Homo sapiens: one gene and its partner. The protein of the gene in region 1 purifies or fractionates together with the protein of each later gene. This does not show direct contact. Each region holds a gene or a part of one and is shown on either strand. Other genes may lie near its edges.

What was found.
Region 2: the proteins of ADISSP (region 1) and CLIC4 fractionate together in Homo sapiens (co-fractionation; one large-scale study listed by BioGRID). This does not show direct contact.

Annotation. Positions count from the first base shown.
Region 1 is NC_000020.11:3,764,822-3,768,974, forward strand, and holds the start of ADISSP (adipose-secreted signaling protein), read right to left. Parts: upstream 2,933-4,153; 5' UTR 2,842-2,932; exon of another isoform or gene 2,388-2,841; intron 1-2,387. UniProt on the Homo sapiens protein: Adipocyte-secreted protein (adipokine) that acts as a key regulator for white adipose tissue (WAT) thermogenesis and glucose homeostasis at least in part through activation of protein kinase A (PKA).
Region 2 is NC_000001.11:24,797,447-24,801,103, forward strand, and holds part of CLIC4 (chloride intracellular channel protein 4), read left to right. Parts: intron 1-295; coding exon 296-405; intron 406-3,657. UniProt on the Homo sapiens protein: In the soluble state, catalyzes glutaredoxin-like thiol disulfide exchange reactions with reduced glutathione as electron donor. Can insert into membranes and form voltage-dependent multi-ion conductive channels.

The sequences.
Region 1 (4,153 bases):
GGGGCTCTGAGGAAGCAGAACTCCCCACCCCACTCTTTTGCCTCACCCCTGCCCTGGGGGGCACTTCCCTCTCCCTGGCCCCCACCAAGTGGCCTCCCACTGGGACTCCTCAGGCCTTGCTGCAGTCAGCTGGTTACCTGTCCATGCCTGCTTTGAGAGGGACATGCCCCATGCCCACTGAGGGTAGGACCCACATCTCATGCAGTGCCAGTACTCAGTAAAGGGCAAACACTGAGGGCCTGTAACCCTCTGGATAGTGACAACATAGAGGCAGGAAGCAAGGGACTTCAGGAACCCAAAGGAAACTGGGAAAACCAAACCTCCTTTCTCAATGGAGAACCTGCTGGTCGCTGTCCTCGGGGAGCTAGACTCTTGTGCACACACAATTCCTCATCAGAAACAGGCAAAGAGGGCACTGGGCCTCCCCTGCTGCAGCTGTGTCCACAGAGAACAGCTAGGCCACCACACAACCCCAAGCCTGGCCCTGCCTCCAGCCTCCTCCTGTGCCAACCAAGGCCTCACCATGGCTCAATCCACATGGCCCCCAGAGGCAGCAGTCCTGGTTCAAATTCAGGATCTGCCCTTGCTAGCTGCATGGGTGAGTTCTTTCACTTCTCTGTCCCTGTTTCCTAATGTGTAACACAGGAATAAGCAGTGGCCTCTTCCTTCCAGGGTTTGCTGCAACTGTGCCTGAAGCTCTGTGACAATGCACCCCCCATCTCTGCAAAAGCAAACCCCCAAAGGCCTGGTTTCTAAAGCAACAGCAGTTTCAGCAGCACCGTCAGAGAGGCACTTCAGGCCAATCCTGGAGGAGCCAGGAGTGACCCTTAGAGTGGGCCCCAGGGACGTCAGCCTTCTTGGAAAACAGCTCAAGGGGTGAGGGGGCCTCCCTCCTCCTGCCTCCCCCTTCTCCCACTCCCAAAGCAGCCAGGTCCCTAGGGAGGGTCAGAGAACAGATGCTGGGAGTTTCCAGTCCCCCTAACCAGAGGGGGTCACAAGGAAGATGTGCAGAATGAACATCCTGGGAAACTGGGAAATGACTAGGGAGGAACATGGTGCCTCCCCGCCAGCAAAAAAAATTATACCCTTCCCCATGAGATGGAGTGTCAGCAAGCTTCCAGGCCCCAGCCCAGGGTGCAGGAAGAGGAGCTACACCCATTCACCTCTGGTCAGCATGCTCCCAACGTCTGAGACCTCATTTCTCATTCCTTCTTCAGTCCCCATTCTCATTGTGGTTCGAGGTCTTTCTCTCTGAGCCAGGAACTCCGCAACCTTCCACCCTCCCTACCTCTTCCTCTCCTACCCCAGCCTGGGGCTCAGTCCTGGCTCAAGCACTCAGTCCAGCAGAAGCACTGTGTAGCCTCCCATTAAAGCTCACGCCTGTGAAAAGAACAGCCATTGAGGCCTTGAGATGGGGCCACACTGACCCGCTGACTCTCAGGACTGGACACAGCAGAGGCCACACATACTCAGAACAAAGCCTGGAAAGGCAAGGCTGGAGGTCAGTAGTTGTGGCAGCTTCACATCAACTCAGCTTTAATGTGATTTAATTTCCTTCTCCCTCCAGTGGGCCAAAGGTGCAAAGATAAGTATGGCTGTTCTCTCTCCTTCTAACAGTGAGGTGCTGGGGGTGGGGGTGGGGGAATATGGAGAAGGGACCCTCACCACCCACACCTTCCTGCCTCCCCAACAAGTGCTGCCCTCCTCTGCCCAGCATTCTCCCCACTTTGCCCTCAGCTAGTGGGTGCTTAGCCTCCAGATAGCATGCCCCACCTAGGCCCTGCCCTGGGCCTGTGATCCAGAGGTCCCAAGAAGCAGAGGCCAGGCTGGATCCAGGGGGTCAGCCAAGGTGAGGGTGGGAGCACACAGGATTATCTCCCAGGGACAGGGCTGCTGCCTCGTAGCTCAGGATGGATAGAATGTGGGGGGATATCCAGCTACATTTTCCCTCCACAAAAGACCAGAATGGGAGAGGGATGGGGTGCTGCCCCGACTTTCTTCAACTCCCCGGAGCAGAAAAATGCCCTACCTCCACTTTCCAGTGCCAAGATTCAAGAAGAAAGGCAAGCGGAGACTTCCCTTTCTCAGTCCCTGCTTACTAATGGAAACACGGGTCCAGAACCTAAATCCAGTCCCTCCTCCTTCATACCACCGGGAGGGAGGTGCAGCCCAAGCCCCCGAGGCCCCAAGGGTCCAGGTGTAGGACCCTTTATCCTCTCCGGCAGCCATCCCTGTGGGTGTGGCACCCCCGCCACACCCCATTCTTGTCATCTCAGGGGGAGGGGGGAAATGTAATCGGACATCCCCCCCATCCAATCCATCCTGAGCTGCGAGGCGGCGGCTCTGTCCCTCGGAGATAATCCTGTGCACTCCCCACCTTCACTCACCTCGGCTGACGCAGGAGTCTCCGGAGCCCGCACTCCCAGACATCACTGCCCTCCTTCCTGAGGGTGCTGAGGCTCGGAGGCTCAGAGATGCTACTGGTCCAAGGTCATGCAGCGAGGCAGCGGCAATGAACAGGGTCGTGGGGAGGAGGGGGCGCTGACCCCATTACGCCCCCGCCCTCACTACCGCACTCATGCCCCCGGACAATCGCTTCGCGGAAAACACCCCAGCTGCACCAGCTAACGGTCACTGCGCCCCGGGAACCTGACATCACTCTAGTTCAGGTGCTGGGGAGTCCTCCAGGCCCGGCCCCGACAGCGGAGCCCCCCACCCCAGCCCTGCCATCACGGCCGCTGGGGTCCCAGGCACTGACTGCTCAGGACAGGGCCGGGACCGGGAGGGGACCTCGGCGAACGGGAAGGAACCGGGAGGCAGGGAGCAGAGGGGTGGCCTCACCTTGCGGGGTGCACCCCGGGGCCGGGGAGGGCAGGGACGACCACTGCAGCGGCGGCGGCTGCAGGAGCTCAACGCCGAGCACGAGGAAGGGAGCCCCGCGCCGCGGCCGCCCTCCCGTCGGCACGCCCCCGCCTCCGCCCATTGGTTGATCTGGGAGGGTGGGGCGAGGGACGCTCCGGACCAATGAGCGGGCTCCAAAGAACGGCCAACTGGCGAGGGCCGCCTACGTCACGTGCCAGGGTCGCCGAGGCAGCGCCCTGCTAGTCCGCGCCTGCCGGGCGAGCTCTCGCGAGGAAGACGGGCAGGCGGCCCAACTAGGCCAGGGGCCAGAACCGACCACTCGAAGAGGGAGAAGGAGGGCCTCGGATAGGCCCCGCCCCCGCTCCTTCTTCCGCCTGGGGGATAGCGCCTCTAGCCTTGAACCTTGCTTAGGACGCACCTCCCTTGGGCCCTTCGCTCTCGGGAGGGCTGTCGGGCGCGTCTCGGGGCTGGGTGGAGCTCCCGAAGGTGGCCTTTCTCCCTGGGCTTCCACGCCGGCTTCGGCCATCGATACGGGCCGTGTTGGTCTCGTTCAGGAGCTGAGGAACCCTCCATCACTCCTGTTTCGACCCCAGGGTTTGGACCTCTTCCCCTTCCACCCCATCCCCTGTCTCGAAAGAAGCAACCCCCGTGCGGGCCCGAGACGCGTCCCGGGTGCCTGGCCCGGCCTGGAGAAGCATCAGAACAAAGAAGGCACGCGGGCTGGGGGCTGGGAGAGCCTGTGACGCGCCCCCGGGGACCGCAGCCTCTGCTCCCGGTCTCCATGGAGGCGGTCGCCATGGCAGCGAGATGCGCCTCGCTCAGCACCGCGGGGTGGGATGTGGGCGCCTGCAATGAGCCGAGGAGCGAGAGGCGTGGCCCTCCGGTCTGCGGGGGTTCTTGCCGGTGCTCTCCGCCCGCCGGTTCGCGAACACCCCACCTATACTTCGCCCGTGGGGACGGATTCCCCAAAGTGCCCTCAGTAAGCCGTCCGGAGCACGCAGCGCCTTGCTTCCAACGGAACTAGAGAGACGGCCTGGGCGGCCGAAGGCCAGCCTCCCTTCAGCAGGGCCGGGGTCGCTGCCTTAAAGGAGCCCTCAAGTCTGCCACCCTGTGGCCCATAACCTGTCTGCTGATCTCCAGTCTGCACACTGTTGGCAAATTAATCTTTCTGAGCTCTTGTTTTCATCGCGTCCCTCTCCTGCTCCAAAGCCCTCTGGGACTGCCTCCAGTAGCGCTTCACAAACTTCAGCAGCACTTTGGGTGACTCATGTGCCCTCGCGTTTGAGAGACA
Region 2 (3,657 bases), on another chromosome or scaffold:
GCCTGTAGCTCCAGCTGCTTGGGAGGCTAAGATGGGAGGTGAAGGTTGCAGTGAGCTGAGATCGCACCACTGCACTCCAGCCTGGGTGACAGAAGGAGACCCTGTCTCAAAAAAAGAAAAAAAAAAAAAAAGGCTAATGAAAGAACAAAATAATAAAGACCCAAATTTCTACTCTTCCTTCCACAATGTAACTTTTCCTGGCTTCTTGTACTCTTGATTAAAATTCAGAAAAAGTTATGTCATGTTGAGTATCATCACTTTGACCTTGTTTTTAATGTTTAATTCTGTTTTCCAGGCTGGCAGTGATGGTGAAAGCATAGGAAACTGCCCCTTTTCCCAGAGGCTCTTCATGATTCTTTGGCTCAAAGGAGTTGTATTTAGTGTGACGACTGTTGACCTGAAAAGGTAAGACATGGTCGCAGTTTGCAATCAACTTAAGCTGAACTATCTTTTCAGTTTGATCCTATTTTCACCTTGATGGCACATATTCTCTAAAGGAAATATATTGTATTAAAGTTCTGCTGGTTTATGGACAAACAACTTGTATATAACTATTTTGGACAAGTCACGCTGTCAGTATACTGCGTGGCTACTCAGTCTTTTTTAGGAACTTTTGTATGTTTACCTTAAATTTCATGAGTAGCACTAGGAGCTAAGTGTTAGTGTGGATGCAGTGAAATCCTTGACTTCTTTTTTCCAGTGTAAACATGGAGTCATGAAGAGCTTTCTAAGCAGACATCATCTTGGCCCCAAATGTGTTAAGCATGTGATCTTTATAATCTGGATCTTCAAAGACAAGGATTTTTAGGAGGTTGAATACCGTTGTTGTCAATTTCATTTAATTTATTTTTCAGAGAATAACAGTAATTTTCTATAGCATTTTAGCTATAATGCAAGTATTTTAATCATATTTGTTTAAATGTATTGTAAAATAAGAGCAATTATCTGTGGCCCGGTGTCTGTTCTTGCTAAGTGAAGAGTTGTTTGTAGGTTTCTCTCCTGGATGACTTTATGGCTTATTTTCCATAGTGGAGAGGGCTGAGAAGAGCCGTGATGAGTAGAAAGCTCTGTTTTATTCAGGAATGTCTATTCACCTTTAGCAAACAGGTCTGAGGTGAAGAACATTCATACATCCCCTTCCCCAAAAGATTTAAATCAAGGGTTAAGAATAGTTGTATTGCTCTTCCTCTCCCTCTCCCCACGGTGTCCCTCTCTTTCCACGGTCTCCCTCTCTTTCCACGGTCTCCCTCTCATGCGGAGCCGAAGCTGGACTGTACTGCCGCCATCTCGGCTCACTGCAACCTCCCTGCCTGATTCTCCTGCCTCAGCCTGCCGAGTGCCTGCGATTGCAGGCACGCGCCGCCACGCCTGACTGGTTTTGGTGGAGACGGGGTTTCGCTGTGTTGGCCGGGCAGGTCTCCAGCCCCTAACCGCGAGTGATCCGCCAGCCTCGGCCTCCCGAGGTGCCGGGATTGCAGACGGAGTCTGGTTCACTCAGTGCTCAATGGTGCCCAGGCTGGAGTGCAGTGGCGTGATCTCGGCTCGCTGCAACCTCCACCTCCCAGCCGTCTGCCTTGGCCTCCCAAAGTGCCGAGATTGCAGCCTCTGCCCGGCCGCCACCCCATCTGGGAAGTGAGGAGTGTCTCTGCCTGGCCGCGCATCGTCTGGGATGTGAGGAGCCCCTCTGCCTGGCTGCCTAGTCTGGAAAGTGAGGAGCGTCTCCGCCTGGCCGCCATCCCATCTAGGAAGTGAGGAGCGGCGCCTCTTCCCGGCTGCCATCACATCTAGGAAGTGAGGAGCGTCTCTGCCCGGCCGCCCATCGTCTGAGATGTGGGGAGCGCCTCTGCCCCGCCTCCCCATCTGGGATGTGAGGAGCGCCTCTGCCCGGCCGCAACCCCGTCTGGGAGGTGAGGAGCGTCTCTGTCCGGCCGCCCCGTCTGAGAAGTGAGGAGACCCTCTGCCTGGCAACCACCCCGTCTGAGAAGTGAGGAAGCCCCTCCGCCCGGCAGCTGCCCCGTCTGAGAAGTGAGGAGCCTCTCCACCCGGCAGCCACCCCATCTGGGAAGTGAGGAGCGTCTCCGCCCGGCAGCCCCCCCATCTGGGAAGTGAGGAGCGTCTCCGCCCGGCCAGCCGCCCCGTCGGGGAGGGAGGTGGGGGGGTCAGCCCCCCGCCCGGCCAGCCGCCCCGTCGGGGAGGGAGGTGGGGGGGGTCAGCCCCCCCGCCCGGCCAGCCGCCCCGTCCGGGAGGGAGGTGGGGGGGTCAGCCCCCCGCCCGGCCAGCCGCCCCGTCCGGGAGGGAGGTGGGGGGGTCAGCCCCCTGCCCGGCCAGCTGCCCCGTCTGGGAGGTGAGGGGCGCCTCTGCCCGGCCGCCCCTACTGGGAAGTGAGGAGCCCCTCTGCCCGGCCAGCCGCCCCGTCCGGGAGGGAGGTGGGGGGGGTCAGCCCCCCGCCCGGCCAGCCACCCCGTCCGGGGGGGGGGGTCAGCCCCCCCACCTGGCCAGCCGCCCCGTCTGGGAGGTGAGGGGCGCCTCTGCCCGGCCGCCCCTACTGGGAAGTGAGGAGCCCCTCTGCCCGGCCAGCCGCCCCGTCCGGGAGGGAGGTGGGGGGGTCAGCCCCCTGCCCGGCCAGCTGCCCCGTCTGGGAGGTGAGGGGCGCCTCTGCCCGGCCGCCCCTACTGGGAAGTGAGGAGCCCCTCTGCCCGGCCAGCCGCCCCGTCCGGGAGGGAGGTGGGGGGGGTCAGCCCCCCGCCCGGCCAGCCACCCCGTCCGGGGGGGGGGGTCAGCCCCCCCACCTGGCCAGCCGCCCCGTCTGGGAGGTGAGGGGCGCCTCTGCCCGGCCGCCCCTACTGGGAAGTGAGGAGCCCCTCTGCCCGGCCAGCCGCCCCGTCCGGGAGGGAGGTGGGGGGGTCAGCCCCCCACCCGGCCAGCCGCCCCGTCCGGGAGGGAGGTGGGGGGGTCAGCCCCCAGCCTGGCCAGCTGCCCCGTCTGGGAGGGAGGTGGAGGGGTCAGCCCCCTGCCCGGCCAGCCGCCCCGTCCGGGAGGTGAGGGGCGCCTCTGCCCGGCCGCCCCTACTGGGAAGTGAGGAGCCCCTCTGCCTGGCCACCACCCCGTCTGGGAGGTGTGCCCAACAGTTCATTGAGAATGGGCCAGGATGACAATGGCGGCTTTGTGGAATAGAAAGGCGGGAAAGGTGGGGAGAAGATTGAGAAATCGGATGGTTGCCGTGTCTGTGTAGAAAGAAGTAGACATGGGAGACTTTTCATTTTGTTCTGCACTAAGAAAAATTCTTCTGCCTTGGGATCTTGTTGGTCTGTGACCTTACCCCCAACCCTGTGCTCTCTGAAACGTGTGCTGTGTCCACTCAGGGTTAAATGGATTAAGGGTGGTGCAAGATGTGCTTTGCTAAACAGATGCTTGAAGGCAGCATGCTCGTTAAGAGTCATCACCACTCCCTAATCTCAAGTAATCAGGGACAAACACTGCGGAAGGCCGCAGGGTCCTCTGCCTAGGAAAACCAGAGACCTTTGTTCACTTGTTTATCTGCTGACCTTCCCTCCACTATTGTCCCATGACCCTGCCAAATCCCCCTCTGTGAGAAACACCCAAGAATTATCAATAAAAAAATAAATTAAAAAAAAAAAAAAGAATAGTTGTATTAAT